Regions from separate parts of the Homo sapiens genome. Here region 1 is linked to region 2. A link means that fine-mapping ties the variant in region 2 to the expression of a gene that starts in the linked region. Tissue or cell type: whole blood. Region 2 holds a variant in brackets; the other region holds the start of a gene. All regions are shown on one strand. Distances are between the middles of the regions.

Region 1 (8,106 bases), 55 kb before region 2:
TTAACGGTGGAAAGGAAGGAGGGGGAAAATAAAGTTCCACATTCCTGACATTTTTTAGCCAAGTGCTGTGGCTGCACAGAGCAGCTTCTCTATTCCAAGCAGCCTGTAGGACTGGGAGAAAACCTGGGTTCAGGGGGGAAAAGCTGCCCCCTGCCTTCGAAACAGGATGGCTCAACACTAAACCAAAATTGGGGTAGCAATAGGGGTGAGTGGTGAGGGGAGAGACAGCCTTTCATATGTGTTCCCAAAAGGAAATTATCCCAAGGGAAAGAATTTAGAGTCATCATCTCCCTGGGGACAGAGAACTAAAGCCCTGGGGTCCCTAACGGGGAAACAGAAGCCCCCTGAATGCAGAAGAGGTGACCAGTGAGTGGGGGAAAGAGCAACGCAGGGATGCAATGCAGACACAAGGGCTGTGGCTGCCTGGCGCGTGGGCTGATGGGGGAGAGGGACCCAGCCCATTGGCAGAGGCACGACAGAGGTCCCCAGAAGGAGGAATGGCCAAGAGAGTCGCTCTTTGTGGGAAGAATTATAATTGAGTTTTCCTGGCTCAGCTTCCGAATGAAGGAATCCTAGCCAGGGCCAAGTCAGAACCCCAAAAGCCTATGTCCTCTCACCCCTTTCTCCCATTCCCCTTGCACCTCTTCCTGCCGTCACTTCTAGGAAAAGGGTGGTGAGTCCCCAGTTGCACCTACCATCGCACCATATGCATCCCTACATACCCACACATGCACACCACACACTTCCAGAGAGAAACCCAGAAGATCCTAAGTGATATCCAGCCAGTCCTGTGCTTGGTTATGAGGCGTCTCCCCAGGCTTTACTCTGAGTGTGAAGATGCCCACATTTGTTTCTCTGTGGTACCTACAGTATCCAGGACGCTTCTGCTCTCATTTGATAGAGGCAGCAGTTCCAAACTCCCCCTCCCCACCCCCAGGAATACTTATCTCTGTGGAGAGTTAGTTAGTCGGTGGGTAAAGACAGTGAGGCCCCCACCATGTGCCCAGCACAGAAGAACACAAGACCTTCTTACTGGAGGCTTAGGGCAAAGCCCTCTTTCTCCCAGAGAAGCACAGACTGATGATCTCACAAAGTACCTCCAAAAGAAGGAGACACCTGCCCTGTAGGTCCTGTAGGTTCAAGGTGCTATGGGAAGAAGTGATGGGCTTGGCAGGAAAAGGGGGCCTGTAGGCATTTCAACCAGGGGCCTTGCTACACTCCCCAATACAAGCCTAAGGGGGAGGAAGAGTAGTTTTGTTTGTTGTTTTTCTCGTCTTGGGCCTTTCTCTTTCACCAGATACTGGAAGTAACAGCTCTTAACACCTTTCAACTTTTAGAGTGGCAGGTTTAATGCACAGGACTTTCCATAAGACTAGAGACCCAGGGAAGGAGGTAGGTACCAAACTCAAATGCTGGCAGCCCTTTCTGAGCAAAGATAAAACAGGGAGGGCCACAAACCCTAACAAATGCTAGAAATATGACGGAGAGAGCCACAGGCTATGCGAGAAACTTCGTCGCTGCAGCCTGTGGCTTTGAGGTTTACAGCTGTCACGTGTATCTTTCCAGCCACACCCTCCAAGGCTGGGGACACGCACTTGGAGGCCTCTTAGAATGGAGGACAGCAAACAGACAGCAGAGAATGCGCTGGGCAAAGGAAATTCTGTTATTTTGTTAAGCTATTATTATGATAAATAATCACAGGGCTCCAGGCGCAAGAGACTTTTTCATGTTGGTAGGAGATGTTATGGCTTTTGTTGCTGATATGATCTCAGTTAAACCTTACAACCACCCTGTGACGAAGACCAGTTTTATGAACGTCTTTAATGATGGGGAAACTGAGGCTGCAGTCAGTTTTCAGTCAGACTAGTCACAGAACAGGGACTGAGACACACGGATATGACTCTGTGTGACACCACACACTTCCAGGGGAGAACCCAGAACAAGGTGGAGCAAGCCCGACCCAATATACCACTAGAGAGAGCTGTGAGAGGGAGAGGAAGGAGAGAGGGACTGAACTAAAGGAGCACTATCAAAAAGTGGAGTGGAGACCCCAGTCCTAGCACCACCGTTTATTTCCTACAGACCCTAAAGCTCAGCCACGGACACATTCATTCATCCAACCCTGACTTGGCCACCACAAGAACGTTCCCAGCTTGAGGGCAGCTTCGCCAGCCAATTAGGGCCCTTGTCATTCGTAGAGATACAGGGAACCCGAGACAGAGGGACAGGGAAGGAAATTTAGCCAGGCAAGCCATCCTCCATCTCCAAGGAAGTTTGTAAATGATCACAGCTTCCTAACCCAACCGTGAGAATGCAATAAGCAAGCTGACGCAGAAGGGAGGACAAGGAGTCTCAGGAACCAGAGGAGACCACGGTGAGAGTGAGGGGAATGTCGCTCACATATCTCACTTCTGAGACAAGATATACCGCAACAAACCCATGCCAAGCTTCCTCCAGTTCTTCCCACTTTTGAATATCACATTTTTCTTGCTCTGCAAGAGTAGGGAATCCTTCCCATCAGTCTTGTGAATTCTGACCCCTTGCTGGCTTTCTACAACTCCCTGCCTGGGAGGCCGACACCAGGACATTGCTGTTGGGGGTGGGATCCCCATCCTCTGCCCCCCACTCCTACACTATAAGAGAATCAACTTTCCCCAAAAAGTGGAGGGTATCCCTGTCTCTCTTCTTGTCTCTGTAAAGGGGGTGAAGCTCTGGGTCGCCGCAGATGGATCTAAAGGGACAGTTCACGGAGTGGTAAAGGATATCCAAAAATTGGCCTTCTAGAGCACAGCAAAAAAGTGGGAGCGAGACGAGAGCAGAAGGCCACTGCTGGGATGGGGCCAGGGCCACACGTGAACATCCGAGCACGTTCCAGAGCTGAGATGCAAAACACCCAGAAAATCACATAGGAAGTGGAAAAGGTTCTGGGTCTCTCCCACTGGAAAAGCCCAGAAGAGCTAGTGGCCACCCCTTGGGGCAAGAGGGGGTTGTGCAATGACTGCGGGTCTGGGAGTCTCTGGGCTTGGCTCCTGGACGCCAGAAAGGGAACCCCACGCGTCAAGCCATGGTGGCAGCGCGGCGGTTGGTTCGAGGCCAGGCTGGGGTTTCAGGGCTGCAGACAGAGCTGCAGGATACGATGAGTGCCCAAGGGGGCGGCAGAGCATGGCATGGCTGGCACGGCGCGGAGCTGGGGGTGCTGTCTGGGCTGGCCGGGGTACAGGCCGGAGGGGTACAGTGCACAAAGCCGGGGTGCAGATAACGTACACGGCAGCCAGGAGCCTCCGATCAGAGGAGGGCCCGCTGACCTGCAGGGGTGTGCCGGGCGGTGCACGACAGGGGGCACTGTCCCTCCAGCTCCCTCCTCCCCAGGCTCTCACCTCGAACATAAGCCCGATGAGGACGCAGAGCACCAGGCAGAAGCCGATGTCCGCATGGTTGTGGATGACGAACTCCTGGCTGAAGAGCGGGTAACTTTTCGTCCTCCTGCGGAAAGCCATGGCAGCGGGCGCGCAGCGGCCGGCGGGGCCCGCACCCTGCGCTCACGAACCGCAGCGCAAACTTCTCCAGCACCGGCCCGGTCCGCCCGCCGGCCCGCCGCCCGCTCTCCCACAGCCGCTCGCCCGCCCAGCGCGGAACAACTTCGGGGCCCGCCCCCTTCCTCCGCCCGCCCCCGGCCGCCCGTAACCGCCCCCGGCCGCAGCCCCCGCCCAGCCCCCGCCCAGCCCGCGGCCCGCACTCGGCGCGCCTGGCCCCGCCCCCCGCGGGCTTAACCCTCTAGCCGCTGGGCACGCGCGGGCTACCGGGGCGGAGGCGTACGGGGGCGGCGAGCGGGGCTCGGCTCCTCCTCGTCCCGCGCCAGCGCCGCGCCCGGCCGCATTCTCGGGGCCCGAGGCTCAGCCGCTCGCGGTGGAGAAAGCAGGCCGCGGAGGAGGCGGGCGCCCAGGCCTGCCCGGACAGGAAGTGGGCCCAGCTTTCCCACTCCTCGCTCCGCTCCTTCCTCCGCGGGAAGGGCAGGCCCCGGAGGCAGCGAGCGCCCCGGGGGTGGCCGGGCAGCCGGATGCTCCCGGGGTTGCGGGCTGTGGCCCCGGGGGCTGAGGGCGGCGCGGGTGCGGCGGAAGCAGGGAAGCCGCGAACCGGCCTTCTGGCTGGCCACAGCGCCCTGCACGGACGATCAGTGAATGGAGATTACTCAAGTATTTATCGAGAACTTGCAGTGGGCTAGGCACAGTTCAGGTAGATCAACAAACCGAAAGACCCTGCCCTAGGGGAGCTTTCGCTCCAATGCGGGGAGAGGGTGGATGATTGCAGTTTTGCCCAGTAATTTTTGGGACCCTCATGCCACCATTAATTAGCTACACACATTTCACCGAAAGTCTACCTTACATATTAATCAGAAGAAGTGGAAGAATAAACACAGAAGAAGCAAAAAAGGAAGGAACTTTCTCACTGAAAGTTTCTATTTAATATTAAGTCTTAAAAGTACTCCTGGAAGGACAAAAGGTGTTCTTAATAAATTATATTCGCAAATATTGGATTTAATCCTACCAGTAATGAAGCAGTCAGTTACTTTCTAGATGTGCAGAAATACGTAATGAACAAAAAAAACTAATTCCTATTCCATTTTTTATTAGGTCCACAGTTATTTCACTTCTAAATAAATATGGTTTTTTAAAAGTGGCACGCGGTGGAATGTAATTGAGACAGGATGGAGTTCCTAGAGAAATTTTACTTCCTCAATCTGCACTCCACCTTACTTAAAATACAGTCTTGGGTCTGTAATTCCCTTATCTGACTCTCAAGGAAATGACAAAGTAATGCCTAGATTGGACTAAACCTCATTTAACTTCAAGGCTGACCTTTCTCAAAGTTGAACCTTCGTCTTGTGAGGAACAGAAAGATCAAGAACTCTGAAGCACCTCGACTTTCCACCTGTGAAGATGTGTTCAAATTTGCAACGTGCGGCCACACCTATGAGGTTGAACTTTATACAATTGGTTTCTTTATAGGTTTAGATGGTTGAATTTAAGTTACCCCCACTGCTATTATTATTATTTTGAGACAGAGTCTTAACTCTGTTGCCCAGGCAGGAGTGCAGTGGCGAGATCTGGACTCACTGCAACCTCTGCCTCCTGGCTTCAAGCAATTCTCATGCTTCAGCCTGTAGCTGGAACTACAGGTATGTGCCACCACACCTGGCTAATTTTCGTATTTTTTAGTAGAGGTGGGGGTTTCACCATGTTGACCAGGCTGGTCTCGAACTCCTGACCGCAAGTGATCCGCCATTTTTTGAGACGGATTCTCTGTTGCCCAAGCTGGAGTGCAGTGACGCCATCTCGGCTCACTGGAACCTCCTCCTTCCAGGTTCAAGCAATTCTCCTGCCTCAGCCTCCTGAGTAGCTGAGATTACAGGTGCCCTCCACCCCCTGCTAATTTTTGTATTTTTAGTAGAGACAGGGTTTCACCATGTTGGCCAGGCTAGTGTTGAACTCCTGATCTTCAGTGATCCACCCGTCTTGGCCTCCCAAAGTGCTGAGATTACAGGCCACTGCACCCAGCCTTTTGCTACACATTTATACTAAACTATATTATGGGGCAGCACAGTAGGTTTGTTTACACCAGCATCACCAGAAACACGTGGTTAATGCATTGCGCTACAATGTTACAGTGGCTACGACATCACTATGTGATAGGAAATTTTCAGCTCCATTAAGATCTTATGAAACAACTGTTTTATATGTTGTTTGACCTGAATATCATTACGTGGCATATGGGTATATGTCCTCCAGTTTTTCAACATTCCTTCCTTCAAAAAGAGGCAATTCGTTCCCCCACCTTGAGTGTGGGCTGGACTTAGTGGCTCACTCCTAATAAATAGAAGGTAGCATAAGTGATGGTATGTGACTTCCAAGACTAGGCCAGAAGAGGCATTTGAGGGTTTCTGCTTTCTTTCTCTCAGGTCACTCCCTCTGGAGGAAACCAGCTGCCACTTTGTGAGGATACTCATAGTCCTGTGGAGGCATATCCTCCATATGGCTGAGACCTCCTGCGAACAACCATCACTGACTTGCCAGACATGAGTGTGCCACCTTGGAAGCAGATTTTCCAGCCCCAGTTAAGCCTTCAGATGACATCAGCCCCTGCTAATCTCTTGACTACAACCTCATGAGAGACCCTGAGCCAGAACTAGCCAGGTAAGCCACTCCTGAATTCCTGACCCACTGCACCTGGGAGAGAATAAATATTTGCTGTTTTAAACCACTAAATTTTATTGTAATTTGTTATACAGCAAGAGATAGCTAATACACACTGCTAAAGCTTACAATCTTTTAGAATTGACTGAGACATCATTACAATTCAGTGTGATGATGGTGACTCTAAGAACAACCTGAAATATGCACACTCTGAGTACAAGGAAAAGGTAACCTAATTCTCTCTGGGGTGTAAGGGAGGAGGTCATTTGGGCTGGGCCTTTACCTGACAAATGGTACTGACAGAGAATGCAGAAAAGGAGTGATAGATGAATTTGGAGAGTTAAGATAGAACTGGATTGTGGCAGGTTTTGTATGCTGTGATAAAGAATTGTGACTTTATTCTGCAAACAATGGGAAGGAATGGAAAGTTGGTGTTTTTTGTTTATTTGTTTTTGAGATGGAGTTTCCCTCTTGTTGCCCAGGCTGGAGTGCAATGGCACCATCTCAGCTCACTGCAACCTCCACCTCCCGGGTTCAAGAGATTCTCCTGCCTCAGTCTCCCAAGTAGCTGGGATTACAGGCATGTGCCACCATGCCCAACTAATTTTGTATTTTTAGTAGAGACAGGGTTTCTCCATGTTGGTCAGGCTTGTCTTGAACTCCCAACTTCAGGTGATCCACCCACCTCAGCCTCCCAAAGTTCTGGGATTACAGGCGTGAGCCACTGTGCCTGGCAAGAAATGGAAAGCTTTTAAGCATGACCAGATCTGTCTTTAGAGGAGAACTATCAGGAGTATGGAAGACCATCCTGATTTAAACAGGAAGACCACTTTGGAAACTATTATAACAGTCCAGTAAAGAAATGGACACTTCTCTCTTCTTTTTGAGACAGGGTCTCTGTCACCCAGGCTGGAATGCAATGGTGCAATCACAGCTCACTGCAGCCCCAACCTCCTGGGCTTAAGTGATCTTCTTGCCTCAGCTTCCGAGTAGCTGCGACTACAAGCACACACCACCATGCCTGGCTAATTTATTTCTATTTTTTGTAGAGACAGGGTCTCCCTCTGTTGCCCAGACTGGTCTCGAACTCCTAGGCTCAAGTGATCCTCCTGCCTCTACCTCCCAAAGTACTAGGATTATAGGCATGATCCACTGCGTCTGGCTAGCACTCCTCAAAGAACAGTAGCAGTAAGAATAAAAGGGAGTTGAATGAGTCAGAACTTGCATCTGGGATAACATAAATGATGGTGGGACCATTAAAAAATTTATTTGGAATAACAGATAAAGAGCATGTTTAAGGGAGGAGAAGAAGATGGCCTCTGCTTTGAACAAGCTGAGGTTGAGGAGCCATGGAACACTTTGACAGCTCAGTTGGAAACTGTTGGATTGGACTTGGGGAGGGAAAATCACAACTAAAGTATTTTCAGTTCATCTTCAGTAGGACTGTTGAGGTCATCAGGTTATATAAGTGTTCTGAGAGAATGAGAAAAAGTCTGAGGTCAGCAGAATCCTAGTGAACCCCGACACTCGGAATGGGGGAAGATGAGGAAAAGGAAAGCGTGGCGTAGAGGAAGCCACGACATAAGAATTTCGTTAAGGACAGGTTGAATCAGGCAGAACAAGAATGAGATGAAACTCCCAGATTCAGCCATCGTGGCTTTTAGAGACCACTTAATTGAACATTAGAGTGGGCTTAACAGTAGGTAGAAGTTGAGAAAAGGAGGTGGGTAAAAACGTCTGTTTGTAAAAAAATGTTTTGTGAGAAAAAGAGAAATGGATGGTGTTTTGAGGGCTATGGAAGATCTAAGGAAGGACCTTTAAATTATATTTAATTTTTGAGATTGGAGCATATTTGGAGACAGAGAGGAAAAACCCAGGAGAGAGGGAAATACTGAAAATACTTGAGCTACGGGAG
Region 2 (8,106 bases):
AGTCCCAGCTACTTGGGAGGCTGAGGCATGAGAATTGCTTGAACCTGGAAGGCAGAGGTTGCAGTGGGCTGAGATCACACCACCGTACTCCAGCCTGGGTGACGGAGCAAGACTCTGTCAAAAACAAAACAAAAAAAATAGGAAAGGGAGAACTGTGGAATCGGGGACAGACCATGGCCACAGATGGATCAATGTGTTGATGTTATTCAAAGCTTATTCAAAGACAGACTGGCAGTTGGTCAGAATAGCATCCTAAGTCAACACCTCCAGCTACTCATGGTCTACCTTTGCCATTAATGGGATCATAAAACATGGTATTAAGGTGACAGGTCATTTCATTCCATTTAGATCTCATAGTGGTTTTGCCAAACCTAGAAAATAGTATGTGTCAGAAAGGCAAAAATCAAGAACCAGAGGAAAAAAATCAATCTAAACCAAATCAAACCCACCAACCAAACAACAACGAAACAAATAACAGGAGCTTTCTAGTCTTTGTACTCAAAATGGTGAACAGATGTTCCTCAGATCTACTGAGAAATGGCCTGAAGTTATAATAATGGGAATTTAGACAGATCATAAATTTGGTACAGATGGAATGAAGAACCCAGGGGGTTAAAAATCTCATTATAAATAGGAAAGCAGAGGTAGTGGGTTGGGGAAGGTGGGTGAAGATGTTTTCAGAGGAGAGTTAGTTAACATGGGAATGGGTTACTGATGGAGATTGTTCAAAGAACATTTGCTCTTAGCAGACATTAAAATAAGATGGACTCTCACCTCTCTGGAGCAGCATAAATAAATTCTTAGGCCTCTCAAGATTTTGCAACTCTAGGATTATCTGTAGGGTGTAATTAAATATTAGTACCAGAGTTCTTTTTATGAAATGTTATGAAATGGACATCTCTCGGAAGTAGGTCTTCCTGGTCAAGATAAACCCTATTTCCCTGTCCTTAGCAGGACCACATATGGACAGATTACCTAAGATTTGTGATTTTGGGGACAATGAGAAATGCTCCTCATCTTTGGGAACTTAAGCAATGGTCCTCAACAATGGCTGCATATGGTAATCGCCTGAAAAGCTTGAAAAAAAAATTGATGCTGCAAGACTTATACACTGAAAACTATAAAATGTCACTGAGAGAAAATAAAGAAGGCCTAAATAAATGGAAACATGTCATGTTAATGAATTGGAAGGCTTAATATTGTTAAAATTGCAATACTCTCCAAACTGATATACAGATTCAGCACAACTCTGTACAAATCCAGGCTGGCTTTTTTTTTTTTCGGTAGAAATTGACGTGATCCTAAAATTCATAGGGAAATACAGGGACCCAGAATAATCAAAATAATCTTGAAAAAGAACAACAGGTAGGGCGCGGTGTCTCATGCCTGTAATCCCAGCACTTTGGGAGACCGTGGCGGGTGGATCACCAGAGGTCAGGAGTTCAAGACCGGCATGGCCAACATGGTGAAATCCCTTCTCTACTCAAAATACAAAAATTAGCAAGGCATGGTGGCCTGTGCCTGTAATCCCGGCTACTTAGGAGGCTGAGGCAGGAGAATCACTTGAACCTGGGAGTTGGAGGTTGCAGTGAGCCGAGATCACACCAGCCTGGGTGACAGGGTGAGACTCCTTTCAAAAAAAAAGCAAAGTTGTAAGTCTCACACTTCTCAATTTGGAGCTTAGTACAAAGCTACACTACTCTAGACTGTGTGGTACTGGCATAAGGATAGAGATAGATCAATGGAATAGAATCAACAGTCCAGAAATAAGCCCATGTGTCTATGTGGCCAACTGATTTTTGACAAGGCTCCTTAGACAATTCAACAGGGAAAGAATAGCCTTTTTAGCAAATAGTATTGGAGCAGTTAGAGAATCCACATGCAAAAGAATAAAGTTGGACCCCGACCTCATACCATATATAAAAATTATCCCAAAATACACCAAAGACATAAATTTAAGTGGTAAAACTATAAAACTGTGAAAAAGAAAACATAACAGGATTCTATGAAATTAAAAAAAATTCTATGAAAAAATATTGATGCCTAGTCTCCACTCAGATTAATCAAATTCAGATGTCTAGGAATGAGGGTTGGGCATTTAAATTTTTTATCGCTTCCTGGTGATTTAGAAACACCACGGGCTTGCAATAAACCATCAACCTGTTTTGATTGTGTATTCGTTGGCAGAGATTAACATGATTTTTGACTCCTATTGCACTAGTAGTTAATTTTGACTGGGGACAGACAGCCAGAAAAGGACTGAAGCAATCCTAGCTAAATGCCAGAATTCACCAGTACCGTTAACAGAGGAATATGTTGTTACATTATATCCTAATGTACTTTTTACAAATAAGTTTTCCCTAGAGCTAGCTATTCAGTTGGCGTGTTCCCTCATTCTCCGTATTCCCTCATATTCTCCATATGGTAAGGTTTTTCAAAGGATGTAACATTAATGTCACATTATCCTTAATGACAGTGTCAATATAACAATATGTAAGTTCCTTCTTTTAAAATTTACTCCTGCTTCAAATTTCCCACTGGTATAGCATGGTAGACCCTAGCTGTCACCCCTAGCTCTTCGGACCCAGGAGTAGGATGCAGCCTTCAGACCGTAAGTGGTCCAAATGGTGAGGTGGGAGTACTTTAAGTAGTAGAGCCTAAACTCTTTCACTTAAGTGAAGGCAAGAACTACAACTGTCCAGTGGTTTTAAATTTTAGTTTATCATTTGTTTAATATTCCCACTTAATTCCAAAAAGGAAGTTGAAGCAATCTATTTCATTGTTTGAGAAAGCAGATTTAGGCTCAGAGGAGGCCTGATAAGCAAAATATTAGGTTTCCAGCATGGTTCCTTATGCAGAGAGACTTGAGTCTAATAATTCCCCCTAACCTGGATATTATATATCATTTTGGAAAGTGATTGTTTTCTACAGGGTCTAATCCTATGACGAGAAGCAGCAGGGACAAAGCCATGCAGAAGATACAAACATAATTGCAAAGTTCTAGTGCACGCCTACTGGGAAACACCTTTTTTTCTGATAAAATGCCGGAATCATACACACATATGTTTTTTGTTAGAAAAGTTTTGTATATTTAAATGATAATCTTTCTGAAACATGTAAGTCTCTAAATAATGGGTTTCAAATGTTTAATCTGTTGTTAATAAGCATAGTGAATGAGATGCAAAACATACTCCTGGGGCATGTCAGAGTTACATAAAATAACTCTATCTGTAACTTTACTACTTTTTATTCCATATAAAAAAGTATATTAAAATTGAAGTAAAAGTAATGTTATTTATTAATACTTGAATCTAGGTAGTAGGTATAAGACTATTGTTCATTGTACTAGTCTTTGCTAATACTGAATTGTATAGTTATATGAATATTTAATTTGGGGGTGGATTCAATAGAAATGCAATTAGTATAAACTATTGAGGTAGTTTCAATATTGGGATAATATTGAATCTGTTGAATCTAAAATTACCCTAATAATAATATCAACTTAAACAAACATTTTACTAGAGACTTCTGGCCTAGTCATGATGGAGTAACTAGTACCAGACATCCCTCCACTCTCAGCAACCACAAAACCACACACAATATATAAAATAACTATGATAAGACACTGGACGGCATTCAGGGAGGACTGTGATTCCTTAAAGAAGGGAAATAGGTAATCTATACATACAAAATGGCTTCACTGATAAATTATCTCAAACATTTAAGGAAAAAATAATAATTCTACAACATTCATTTTAGAAACACTTAAAAGCTTAAAAAAAAATTGAGACAGAGTCTCACTTGATCACACAGCCTGGAGTGCAGTGGCACAATCATAGCTCACTGTAACCTCCAATTCCTGGGCTAAAGCAATCTTCCAAATAGCAATCCTAGCAAGTAGCTAGGACTACAGGCAGGCGCCACTACACCTGGCTAAT[TTG/T]TGTGTGTGTGTGTGTGTGTGTGTGTGTGTAGAGATAGGGTCTCACTATGTTGCCCAAACTGGTCTTAAACTCGTGGCCTTAAGTGATCCTCCTGTCTCAGCCTCCCAAAGTGTTGAGATTATAGGGACGAGCTGTTGCATCCAGCCAACAACTCATTTTATGAGTCCAAAACTATTCTGATATCAAAACCAGAAAAAGACATTACAGAAAACTGACTAATATCGTCATGAACATAGACGCAAAAGTCCTTAAAATTTTAGCAAATTGAACCCAATGACATAGAAAAAGAATAATGCATCATGATCAAATGGAGGTTATACTAGGAATGCAATGTTAGTTTAATGTTTGAATATAAACTGATGCCATTTAATAGAATAAAGAAGAAAAAGCATATGATCATCTCAATAGATGTAGAAAAGCATTTGACAAAATTCAACAACCATTCATGATAAAACCTGTCAACAAACACAGAAGAAAACTTCCTCAACCTGATAAAGCAGTGGTCCCAACCTTTTTGGCACCAGGAACTGGTTTCATGGAAAACAGTCTTTCCACGGACATGTGAGGTGGGCGGGGTGGGGGGTGGGGAGTGGTGGTTTCATCAGGGCATTAGTAGATTCTCATAAAGAGCATGCAACCTAGATCCCTCTCATGCGCAGTTCACAAAAGGGTTCACAGTCCTATGAGAATCTAATGCCACCGCTGATCTGACAGGAGGTGGAGTTCAGCTGGTAATCCTTGCTTGCCTGCCGCTCACTGCCTGCTGTGTGGCCCGGTTCCTAACAGGCCATGGACCAATACTGGTCCACGGCCCAGGGGTTGGACCCCTGTGATAAAAGACACCAATGAAAACTTTATAGCTGACAACCTATTAATGGTGACAGATTAAAACATTTTCCCCCTAAGTACTGGCCTTGATCAGGGCCAGTATTTCTACTTTCACCACTTCTATTAGAGGTCTTAGACACCTCTATTAGATGTCTTCAACAGCACAAAAAGACAAAAATAAAGAAGAGGCACAAAACCATAAAAGAAAGAGTAAAACTGTCTTTATTTGCAGATGATATGATTACACAGAAAATTCTAAATAACTTAACATAAGCTACTGGAGCTAATTAGTAAATTTAGGAAGATTGCAGGATATAAAGTTAATATATAAAGTTCAGTTGTATTTCTATATGTTAGCAAATGAACATTTGAAGACTGAAACTTAATACCATTTAGAATAACACCAAAAACTCAAAATATTTAGGAATGCACTTAATAAAATTTGTGTAAGACATACACCTTGAAAAATTATAAAATATTGCTAACAATCAAAGAAGAAAAACAAATGGAAAGACACTATCACTTATCGTTAAGATGTCAATTCTCCCAAAATTGGCCTGTAGATTCAACACAAGCCCGATCAGAATCACAGAAGCCTTTTCTGTAGAAACTGGCAAATGGACTATAACATTTTTCTAGAAATTTGAAGGCCTTAAAAGAGGTAAAGCAATTCTTAAAAAGCACCAAAAAAAAAAAAAAAACAAAAAAAAAAAACAAAATCAAAAGCAAAAAACCAAAGTTGGAGGATGTATACTATCATTAATTTCAAAATTGCTATAATGCCATGGTAATCAAGACAATGTGGTATTGACATAAAGACAACCAAATAGATCACTGGATAAGAATACAATATAAGAATAGTCCCATATATATTGATTTTTGACCAAGATAGCAAAGAAACTAAAAGGGGAAAGGAAACACTTTCATCAAACGGTGTTGGAACAACAAGCTATCTATGCAGAAAAAAACACTTGAAATTCATACCTCACGCTAAACACAAAAATTGATTTGAGATGAATCATATTGCTAAACACGAAAGCTAGAACCATAAAGCTTCTAGAAAAAAAACACAGGAGGTTATTTTTACAACTTACAGATAGGCAAATATTTCTTTTTCAGCACACACAAAGCACTAATTGTACAAGAAACAAATTGAAGAAATGAACTTTCATCAACATTTAAAACTTCTGTTCATCAAAAGACACTGTTAAAAATTGAATAAACAAGCTGCAGATGGGAAAAATATTCACAGCATATATATTTGACAAAGGACTTGTATCCAGAATAAAAAATAGCTCCTGTGACTCAATAATGAAAAAGACAAACAATCTAATTTTTAAAAAGCCATCAAGGAAATTTCTGCTTCCAGAAAAATTGAGTAGACGTACTTTTCTCTTATACTTTCTGCCAAGGACAGCTAAAAAAACCCTGTACATTTTATATAAAACAAAGAAAAGAAGACTCTGAAAGGTGGAAAGAAGGCAGACCAGCAGTTGACCTCGGGATCACAGAAACAAGTGGGTGAGCTCCCTGGGCTTTGTTTTTGCTTCATATACATATATCCCAGACTAGTTGCTTGAGAAGCCAGCAACCTGGAAATATCAATGGAAACACACACACACACACACACACACTCACACAATCACCTAGAAAAAGCCTGCTCACTCTTGCCAAAGGATCAGAAAGGGACAGCTTAGGGAGACAGAAAACTATTAGACAATAATGACTCTACTCCAGCTAAACACCACAGAAAAATCTGTGATCTCACCCCCGTCCCTGCCTGCTAAGACCAACTGGGGACCGTACCCTTGTGAGGTTATAATGAGGCACCCTACGCATCCTTCCTTCCTGCTTCCCCGCTTAAGGTGGTGTTAGAAATCAGAGAGCTGGAAAAAAAGTCCTGGCTTCACTCCACTCTGATTTCAGTTGTTCAACTTTTTAAAAAAAACCTGCTATGAGTTGATGAATCACCATTTTAGCCTAAATAACTTTAACTAGATTTAACTGAGAGCTCTAATTCAACTTAAAACTCTTTTTGCTAAGATCTAAACTCTACGTACTCTCTTATCTCAACTTTCCATCCTTTCATGCTTCTGACTACTTGATTCTTGTTTTGTCTTTAATTGCATCAGCCATGCTTGCCCCACTTCCTTTAGTGCCCAGTCTATATCCTATACTGCATCTCCTCAATGATGCTTTTTGTTTAAATGACTTTTATTGAGCTATAATTTGCCTGCATTATTCAGCCCCTTAAAATGTATAATTTGTTCAAATGTCTTATCATAAAAAATGATAGGTAAGCAAGGTGAGGGATCTATATATAAATATATATATGATACTTTTTTTTTTTTTGAGACGGAGTCTTGCTCTGTTGCCCAGGCTGGAGTACAGTGGCATGATCTGGGCTCACTGCAACCTCTGCCTCCCGGGTTCATGCAATTCTCCCTGCTTCAGCCTCCCAAGTAGCTGAGATTACAGGCACCCGCCACCACAACCGGCTAATTTTTGTGTTTTTTAGTAGAGATGGAGTTTTGCCATGTTGGCCAGGCTGGTCTTGAACTCCTGACCTCAGGTGATCTGCCCACCTCGGCCTCCCAAAGTGTTGGGATTACAGGCGTGAGCCACTGTGCACAGCCAGTGAGGGATATCCTAATTGTCTTTATTTAATCATTCCACATTGCATACACACATCAAAACATCACATTGTACTCTGTAAGTGTATACAATTATGTACTCTGCAAGTGTATACAATTATGATTTGTCAATCAAAAGTAATATTAGTAATACATTTTTAAAAATGTAAAACGCCAAACACAACAAAATATACAATTTCATGAGTTCTAAGGCATGCAAATACAAGTGAAACTACAGCTACAACCAATATATGAGTATTTTCATCACCCTCAAAAGTATTATCTTGCCTGTCATCAGTCCATCCGTCCCTCCACCCTCAACCCCAAGTTTTTGTGACTGTATTTGCATTCTTACTATAGTTCGTATTTACATTTTTATGTCTGGCTTCTTTCACTCGTCAGAATGGTTTTGCATGCATGTTGCATTTATCAGTAGTTTGTCTCCTTTTCATTGCTAAGTAGCATTCCATTGTACAGCTAGACAGTACATTTTGTTTATCCACTCACCAAGTGAAAGGCATTTGGGTAGTTTCCAGTTTGGGTAATTGTGAATAAAGCTACAATGAACACTCATGTTTTTAAAAATGATGGCACAGAAGAATATTTAGTGATAGGGAAAGATGTTCATGACCAATTGAATTGTTAAATGAAAAAGGTTACAAAATGAACCCTTTTTTGTAATAAATATATTGGCATAAATAAGT

What was found. PIP is the estimated chance that this variant, and not a neighbour inherited with it, causes the effect.
Region 1: it holds the start of TRAM2-AS1, and the variant in region 2 is fine-mapped to the expression of TRAM2-AS1 in whole blood (INTERVAL, PIP 0.97).

What each region holds. Positions count from the first base shown.
Region 1 is chr6:52,573,419-52,581,524 of GRCh38, forward strand. It overlaps TRAM2-AS1 (TRAM2 antisense RNA 1), which reads left to right and starts at 3,784. Exons shown (of 3, transcript NR_103446.1): 1 at 3,784-4,975; 2 at 5,957-6,191. TRAM2 (translocation associated membrane protein 2) reads right to left here and starts at 3,642. Exons shown (of 11, transcript NM_012288.4): 1 at 3,378-3,642. The coding sequence starts at 3,497. RefSeq lists enhancers at 1-446, 1,048-1,097 and silencers at 1,448-1,497, 3,355-4,214.
Region 2 is chr6:52,628,620-52,636,725 of GRCh38, forward strand. No RefSeq gene overlaps it. Among named protein-coding and RNA genes, the nearest start is that of TMEM14A, 38 kb to the right of the region's middle. The variant TTG/T (reference allele first, on the strand shown) is at 3,939.